3 separate regions of the Homo sapiens genome follow, and regions 2 and 3 are each linked to region 1. Evidence: fine-mapped expression QTL. A gene starts in region 1. Each other region holds a variant in brackets. All regions are shown on one strand. Distances are between the middles of the regions.

Region 1 (2,766 bases):
TAAAAACCCAAATTTGAAACAGTGTACTCTTCAAAAGTAACTCAGCAAATGGAAATGTCCTAGAAAAATCTCGGTTGCTTATTTCTTACTATACACACAGCTGAAATGGAACTCAGGAGTGGAAAATGTAAATGAAATGGCCTGTTCTTTTTCCAACATGTGGGGGAGGAAAGGAAATGAAAGGGCTCGTTAAGAGAATAACTGAGAATATTGAAATATTTTCAAAAATTAATTTCCCTAAACTTCGCCACTCCACATCTCCGCTCCCTCCCTTTTCCAAGGACCCTTCCCACCCTTTCTATCTCCTCCGGGGGGCGCCCTTCCCAGGCGTTCTCTTTCCCTTACTCCTAAAAATTAAGCCCAAATTCCAAACCAAACTACCGATTCTCCCTCCGTTCTCAAGACTCGCCCGCCATCCACCGGCCTTCCGGGCTGCGCCTGGAGAGAGGCAACCCCGAGAGGCGGGAGGAGGAGCGGGGAGGCGACGCGGTGACTGGAGCTGCGGCTGCAGCCGCCGCCGCCGCCTCCACCACAGCCTCAGCCTGGTGCATCCTTCTTCCTCCCTCCCCGCCGCCGCCCGCCCGGGTTGGCCCACACAGCACCCTCGCCCGAGCGTTCACACTCGTCCCCACCCTCCTAGCCAGGCCCACTGCCCCACGAGGGGACTTCTGCCGACGGGGATGCGGCCGGGGACAGGAGGAAGCGGGGCCGCGGAAGCCGGCGGGCCCGGGAGGAGACTGAGGAAAGGCGAAGGGACGGAGAGAAGCAAGGGCAGGGCTGAGACCACCACGCTCAGGCTGCTCCGGCCGCGGAGGCCGCGGCTCTGCGCCGGGGGCCAGCCCGCCGCGGCACAGGAAATGCCGCCGCCTCGGCTCTCCTCACGTTCAATTCAAACTGTCACCGCCGCCGCCTCCCCTCCCCCCGAGCCCGCCGCTGCCGCGCCCCGGGCCCGCAGTGGCCCCCATCCCGGCTCCCCTCGCCGCTGCCTCCGCCTCGCCTCAGGGCGTTCCCTAGCTCGGTCCAGCGGCCGCAGAGCTTCCCGGCATTCGGAGCCGCTGACCCCAAGTCGCGGCACCCGAAGCTGAGACTCACCCATGGTGCTGCTGTTGACGCTCCTCTCCTCAGCAGCAGCGGATCTCGCACTGACCGACATCCCCTCCCCCCCTCCGCGACCAGCCCCAGCGGAGCGCAGCCCGCCGATTCTCCAAAGGCGCCTACGCCGATTCCGCAGCGTAGCCGCCCGGCGTAGCTGCCTTGCTTACGCACGCTACAGCAGGCGGACTCCTCCACAGGCTCTCGCTCGACTCCCGCTCCCTCCTCCGTCCCCCGCCCCCTCAGACGAGGCTTCCGGGCCTAGCGGAGGCTGGCTTCCATCTCGCGAGATTACCGCCTCCCCAGCTCCGCCGCCTCGCTCCATTTCGAGCATGACTTCATTGGCGTCAGCAACGTTTTGCTGTTCGGGTTTAGCCGCCATGTTTAAGTTGGCCGGGTTTCGCACCACTGAGGTCATGGATACTCAGGCCTCTTTGCGTGTTTCTTCAACACTGCTTCTAAGGTTAACCGCGTTACATTTGTTGGAGAAAATCCTGGGAACGCTGAAAAGGACTAGTGGGTGGGGTGCGAGGGTGGGGTCTTGCCCGAATTAAAGATGGCCGCAGTCAGCTCTGCCCCGCGCAATTTCACGTCAAGTTTTGGAGCTGCGGGAGCCGGCCAGTTGGCCTCAGCGCCTCCTTACGGAATTGGCGTAAGGCAAAGAGGCGCGGCTGGAAGAACCAGACTGAGAAAGTGCCACAGGGCGGGGGCCGCATCCGCCCCTCGGCTTCTGGTTACTGACCCGACGGCTTTGTGAGTGAAAGTGAAGAGACACTTCGAGGCAGGTGTCTGTGCTCCCCATTCATCCCTGTTTCCGTGGCTATCTTGACTTTCGGGGTGAAAAGTGAGGTTAGGCCCTGTTTCCCCGACCCTTCCCTCGCGCCATCACACTCTAGTGGCCTGGCACAGCCCCAGAGGTCGGCCGCTGTAGCCCCCATTGCGGACTCGCCACATTCATATTGGCTCACCTTGTCGGTGCCCGGTTCGGTCCTCTTGGAGCTCACACTCCAGTTGAGGAAATGAATGGACACAGGAACTACTGGGTAACAAAATACTAATAAAGGGCTGCGATTGTGTGAGTTTCTACTGTAGCGATGAATGTCGCTGTCATTGGAACGTTCCCCAAGTGCCTTCTAGTGAAAGCCTTACTTCACTCGGAATAACCTGTGGTCTTTTCTTGAACGTGATGGCTCTCTTGGTTGTATTCTTCATGCACATGTGTTACTTTTCCTGTTTAACTACATGTTAAAGAAATGTGTATGTTCCTGTTTAACTGCATGTTTTAAAAAAGTATGTGTATTTTTAAGTTATAGGCACGTGCAAGAAAGTTCAGAGCAAAATAGCTTATATTAGTGAAACAATAAATGTCTACTAATAGGAGAATGGATGAATAAGTGTCATTGTTGAACAAATTGACATACAACACGAACCAAAAAATCAGTGAACTAAAGCTACCATTTTTCATATGGATAGAGTCATTAACCTAATATTGAGGAAGAAATGAAAAGACAGGTTGCGGAAAGATATATATGACATACCATAAATAAAAGTTTAATAATTACAAAAAAGTAAGATCAAACTAAAAATTGTATAAGGAAATGATAGATACCAAATTCAGAATACTGGTTGCTTCCAGAGATGAACAGAAGGGAATGTAACAAGAAGGGTTCATTT
Region 2 (2,766 bases), 100 kb before region 1:
AGAGCTCTTACTTTCTAAGTACAGAACACCCTAGACAATTCAAGGCATCTTAATCTCCATCAAGAACAAAAAAAAAAATAATTTTTGTCATGCTGTTAAATCCATCATTATGGATAAAACTGGTGCAAATTGGTCAAACGGATCCAACAAACACTGATGTCCAAGCTGGCATATTGGCAACTAATACGTTAACTGGTGGTCAATAGAGAGTTTAAAAGATCTTCCCTTTCTTCTTGTTCTTTTCCAAGGTTCTAAAGGATAAAAGGAAAATAAGCAAGATGAGTAACCATTTTATAAACATGATAGACAACATGATAACAACAGCTAACCCAATTACAACAATGTTGGGATTTTCAGATACTACTTTTTCACTGAAAAAAATTAAAAGATTTAGAAGTAAACAGCTAAGACAATGTTAATCTATAATAGCATTTTCTTAGACAATCAAATATTTGACAAAACTCCAGGATAAGCAGTAAAAAAATAAGGCAAAACTCCATTTTAATATACAAGAACAATTCTTCCCAAATGAAACAGCACAAACTAAAAAGTATCAACTGGCAGCAAACAGGGTATTCTTTTTCCCCCACTGTCATTTGCATTTTGAAGTGCAATTGCTTTCACAAATCTATTTTCCTCTTCTTTGGGGAAAATGTTAACAGTAGGGTAGTGTAGTAGAACAAATGTCAAATCTGAAAATGTTTAGTAATGAGGATAAACTATATAATCCTTATAGGAATGCCACTTTTCAGTTTTAAGTGAAACTATTAAGGAAAAGAAAACCAAGGTACAAATATTATTGAATTTTGTATAAATTAAGAGAAAGTAATTGATTAGTTGTATTGGAAATCAAATATCTAACATTTTGTCTTAAGAATTTTATCGTAAAAACATAATTCAACAGTTAAAACATACCCCTAAATATGTAATAGATTTTGAAGAATGTTCCCTTTGTGTGCCAAAAATTGAAAACAACCCTTATGTCCAACAACTGGGGGGAGGAGGTAAGAAATCCAATGAAGGTAAGTTAACTGGGGAGAATGTTATGAAGTTGCTAAATCATAATTATGAATATTAAGTCATGAAAGATGTACTGAAAAAATACTGCTAATGGACACAGACTGTATCCATCCATATAAAAATATTTATCTATGAAAACCATTGTGTTTGGAATGCATGATAATGGGTGATGACTTTTTAAGTGTTATTCTAATGTTTTTTAAATAAGTAGGAAAACAATTCTTTAAAACATTAATACACACATTTCTTAGTAATCTGCTATTAGTTACCTTGAAGAGTTCTGTTGTTCTAAAATACGTTGTTGAGCTTCCCAGTTTGCTTTCTCATCCTC[G/A]AACTGACGACGTTTTTCCTCCAATTCTTTGTGCTGTGCTTCCAAATTCTTTTTCATTTGCTCATGGCGCCGCTGGAGCTAAATCATAGCACAATATATAAAACAAAACTATTTAAGAAATCAGAAGCAGAGGTATGTTTCATCCAGACACCCTAATGATAAGGAGTATGAGCACTATTTGAATAGCCCTGTTGTAAATTCAGAGTACTACCTGGAAGTACTCTGGTCAAGGACTCCTCCTCCTTTAGGACCTGCCACCCAAAAGGCCAGTGACCCAAGACAATAATCTTGGGAAACAGGAAAAAAAAAAAAAGCAACAAACTTAACAGTGTGGAGTACTTTATAATGGAAAATTACTATCTTATCTCGTTTTTCTTTAATCACAAATATGTTGGAGGCTGGGCAGTGAACACATCACTGTTCTCATTGTACAGATGAGGAAACAGTTGCAGAATTTAAGTGACTTGCCCAAGATTGCTAGCCAGAAAGTGGAAGAACCAGGACTTGAATAAGCCTCCTAATTCCAAGTTTAGAAAGCTAAGACAAGTGAAAAGAAAGCAGGTAGTTTAGGACCCTAAGAGCTCAAAGATGCCAGCAAAGTACTCTGATTCCTGTAAGCAGTGGTTCTCAGACATTGGTCTTCATGCAAATCACCTGGGATGTTTGTTAAAAATATAGAATCCTGGACCTCACTCAGACGTACTGAATTAGAATATCTGGGTGTTAAGTCTGGAAATGTGGATTTTCAACAAGTTACAGTGATTCTAATGCAGCTGGTCCTTCCTTCTCTGTGTATTAATACTGTAAAGAATGCTGACTGAGAGGCAGTAAACACTCATGCGAAGTAACTGCAGAAACAAAGTGCTTTAAGTCCAAGAGATCATTAGATAAGTAATTTCATTTAGGTGCAAGTCAATCCATTTCTGAAAAAAAAAAAAGTCAACAAATTTTAAAAATCAGATTAAATCCTTCTATGCCAAATACCCAAGGACTATTCAAAACCTTCAGTTATCCAGGAATTATGTTCTGTTACAGATTTTACTACACTGGTGAGTTAACATTAACATAATGTTAATATATAACTATTATATGTATTATATATTATATACATATTATATATGTTACTATAATTTTGCATACAATTTTTTTTTGCAAGCCCGAAGTGACTTCAGATTTATTCCTATTTCAATTATTTCATGCAATTCCTACAAAACAAAATCACCTAAGACACACTTAAGCAAACATGAATCAAATCTGAGGTGATATCTTCCTGATGACAGCAAACAAGTTACTAAGAAATGTCAGAAAGTAGGAACATAAGAAAATGTCTCTAGTTATTTTTTTTAAATGAAAAGAGTCACATATACACAATTCGGAATAGTAGTTACCTCTGGGAATGAGAGAGAGGGATACAA
Region 3 (2,766 bases), 85 kb before region 1:
TGAAACCCTGTCTCTACTAAAAATACAAAAATTAGTCAGGTGTAGTGGTGCATGCCTATAATCCCAGCTACTCAGGAAGCTGAGGCAGGAGAATTACTTGAACCTGGGTGGAGGCTGCAGCGAGCCAAGATCGTGCCACTGCACTCCAGCCTGGGCAAGAAAGTGAGACTCCATCTCAACAAAGTAGCCTCTGGCTCAGTAACTAGCTTTCCCCTCTACAGTGTTTTAGGTATGTAGGAAATTATTGATTGTATACTTTTAAAATACACAAGAAAAAGTTATAGAATGCCATTGTGTCAAGCACTAGGCAAGTACCATAGAAGATTTAAAAACAAGAGGAATGCAATGGTAAATTAGTATTTATTAAACATTCTCTACTTATATACTGTCATAGCAGATTATATTATTAATATGTATTCTTTTGAAGTCACACCTTAAGAATGGAAGAGGAAGGGAATGGTTCATAATAGAGCCTGAAGTGTTGTATTCTCAAAACCCAGAAGATGACCTTCTCGTGCTTTTGCTCTTCTCCACTAAGTGAGGCCTGGCAACCTCAACTGCTGAATTAAACCTATCATGTAGTTCCTACCAAGAACACCTGCTCCTTTGAAAATAAAGATCAATTACATGCCATTTATTTAATTTCAAAATTCACTCTCACCTCTATTGTATTTCTTGAGGTAGCAGTTTGACTGTCTTAAATTTTCCCCCTCACTTCTCACCTTGAGAATGACCTCTTGTTATTCCATGATTTCCAACTATTATCCATATTTATGTAACTACCTTTCTTTACACAGCAAAAGAGATTCTTATGTTTTGGGAAAGTGGGTAGAGGTATGAAAATTAATAGATATCAACTAAAGACAGACATCTAAAACTGAAGGTTAAAGAGAGTATGTGGTAAAGGTGTAGAGAAGCAAGAGAGAAAAGTGGGAAATGCGGAGTCAGGTAGGGAGGGGAATGAATGTGTCTCAACATGAAAATACTGAGGATCATTTTGATGCCCTTTCTGTTCCTTGTCTACTAACATCTCTAGTCCTATTACACTTTTTCTTCATGATTTCCTCTCTGCTGCTGCTTTTCTAATTCATTAGTAAGAGATCCTCTTTACAGTCCTGGTCCTCTAATCAGGATGGCCTCGATGTCCTGCTCCCATAGGCTTTCCTTCTCTTTCAGCAGGTGTGTAAGACACAATTTAGGGATTTCTCACCTGGTAGGAATACTGGTTTTATTCACTATGTTCCAGTACATAAAATGTGCCCTACTCACCAGCTACCAGGCTGTGCACCTTTTAACATTCAAATTCTAGCTTTGGACTCAAAAACTAGCCTTCTCTTATATAGTTTTCACAAGGTTTTCACATTAAGAAAAAAGAGCCTCTTCTACTTCACTTTCCATAGTTATTTCAGTATTAAATCTCGACACAAAGTATAATGATAAAGAGACTAATTTTCCTATGTATCCCTAGACAAATTACTTTGCAACTTTTGCTCATGACTTCAAAACCTTGGAGAAAGAATCATCTATA[T/C]GTAGTGTTTACTTCATGGCTAGACTGAAGATATAAATTTAAATTAGCTACATTTATAGAAGGCAAAAAGTAAATCTGTCCAACTCTTACTTAGGGAAAGAAAATCTTATGCTATTTCCATCATTGCTTGCACTTACCTTATCAACATATTTCTTAGGATTGTAAAATCACAATGTTCACCATTTTCAACTGTAAGAAAAAAGCAGACCGCATATGTTATATTTCCACTAAACCTAGTCTTTTCAAAAAATATTTCACAGGAACTTGGGGTGTAAAAACAAGAAGAGGAAATGCAAAACAGATCAATTTTTTTGAGATTTAACACTAACATAGTACACTCAATGTGAGGGCATGACAGAGAAGTGTACTCTATTATTGCCTTATTGTAGTTTAATCCTCAGAAATAGATATGTAAACCTAACAAATGAACTCTCCAGAAACAACTTTGAAATTCTGAAAGGGGAAATCTTATTATTGGTAAAAAATATATTTATTCTATAATACATTTAAAAAATTCAGTGGTGTGAGTGAAGGGAGAATCACTTTAGAAAAAATCTTAAGGTAACCAAAATGAAAAAGGGAGCCAAGAACTTTCAGGTTCTTTACTTTTATTTTTAAAGAATGTATCACAAATAGGAATATTACTTGGGAGTAGAGGGGTAAACTACAAAAGAGAGATGCAAATCAATTTCTCCGGTGCGTATTTTTAAGGGGTAAGTTCTAAAGCCCCAGCTCAGCAAGTAAAAGTTGCCTGGGCATGATAGAGAGAGCTGGGAACAAGGTACACAGGTCACTGATGGGAAAATTGCCAATAAGGACAGTTACCTGAAACAATATCCTAAAAATTAAAGAATTGTTCAAAATAAACCAGGGGCAGTGGTGTGTGCTTATAGTGACGTGATGTGGGAGGAGCATGATGTGGGAGGATCACTTTGAGCTCAGGATTCTGAGGCCAGTTGGGCAACATAGCAAGACCTTGTCTCTTAAAAAAAAAAACGAAGTTCAAAAATAATAGCAACAAACAGATAAAACAATCAAATCTCAATTTTGGTTTCAGCTTACTATAATACAGAAGATTAAGTATCAGATTAAACCAATACAATAAACCTATTGCCAAGAGGAAGTACTTCTGAGGCTTGGTGTTATAACTAAGATTTTATTGGTATTTAAAACTCCTTACTTAACCCTTAATAATTTAAGATAGCAGGTTAAAAAAGAAAACAAAAAACTCCTTACAA

What was found.
Region 2: its variant is fine-mapped to the expression of SEPTIN7 in whole blood (INTERVAL, PIP above 0.99).
Region 3: its variant is fine-mapped to the expression of SEPTIN7 in whole blood (TOPMed, PIP 0.96).

Annotation. Positions count from the first base shown.
Region 1 is chr7:35,799,597-35,802,362 of GRCh38, reverse strand. It overlaps SEPTIN7 (septin 7), which reads right to left and starts at 1,306. Exons shown (of 14, transcript NM_001788.6): 1 at 1,093-1,306. The coding sequence starts at 1,153. It overlaps SEPTIN7-DT (SEPTIN7 divergent transcript), which reads left to right and starts at 1,738. Exons shown (of 5, transcript NR_120512.1): 1 at 1,738-1,873. RefSeq lists silencers at 395-844, 875-1,114 and enhancers at 1,265-1,654, 1,269-1,892, 2,015-2,074.
Region 2 is chr7:35,901,739-35,904,504 of GRCh38, reverse strand. SEPTIN7 (septin 7) reads right to left here. Exons shown (of 14, transcript NM_001788.6): 13 at 1,290-1,429; 14 at 1-251. The coding sequence ends at 212. Among named protein-coding and RNA genes, the nearest start is that of SEPTIN7, 100 kb to the right of the region's middle. The variant G/A (reference allele first, on the strand shown) is at 1,352.
Region 3 is chr7:35,884,779-35,887,544 of GRCh38, reverse strand. It overlaps SEPTIN7 (septin 7), which reads right to left. Exons shown (of 14, transcript NM_001788.6): 10 at 1,666-1,717. Among named protein-coding and RNA genes, the nearest start is that of SEPTIN7, 85 kb to the right of the region's middle. The variant T/C (reference allele first, on the strand shown) is at 1,529.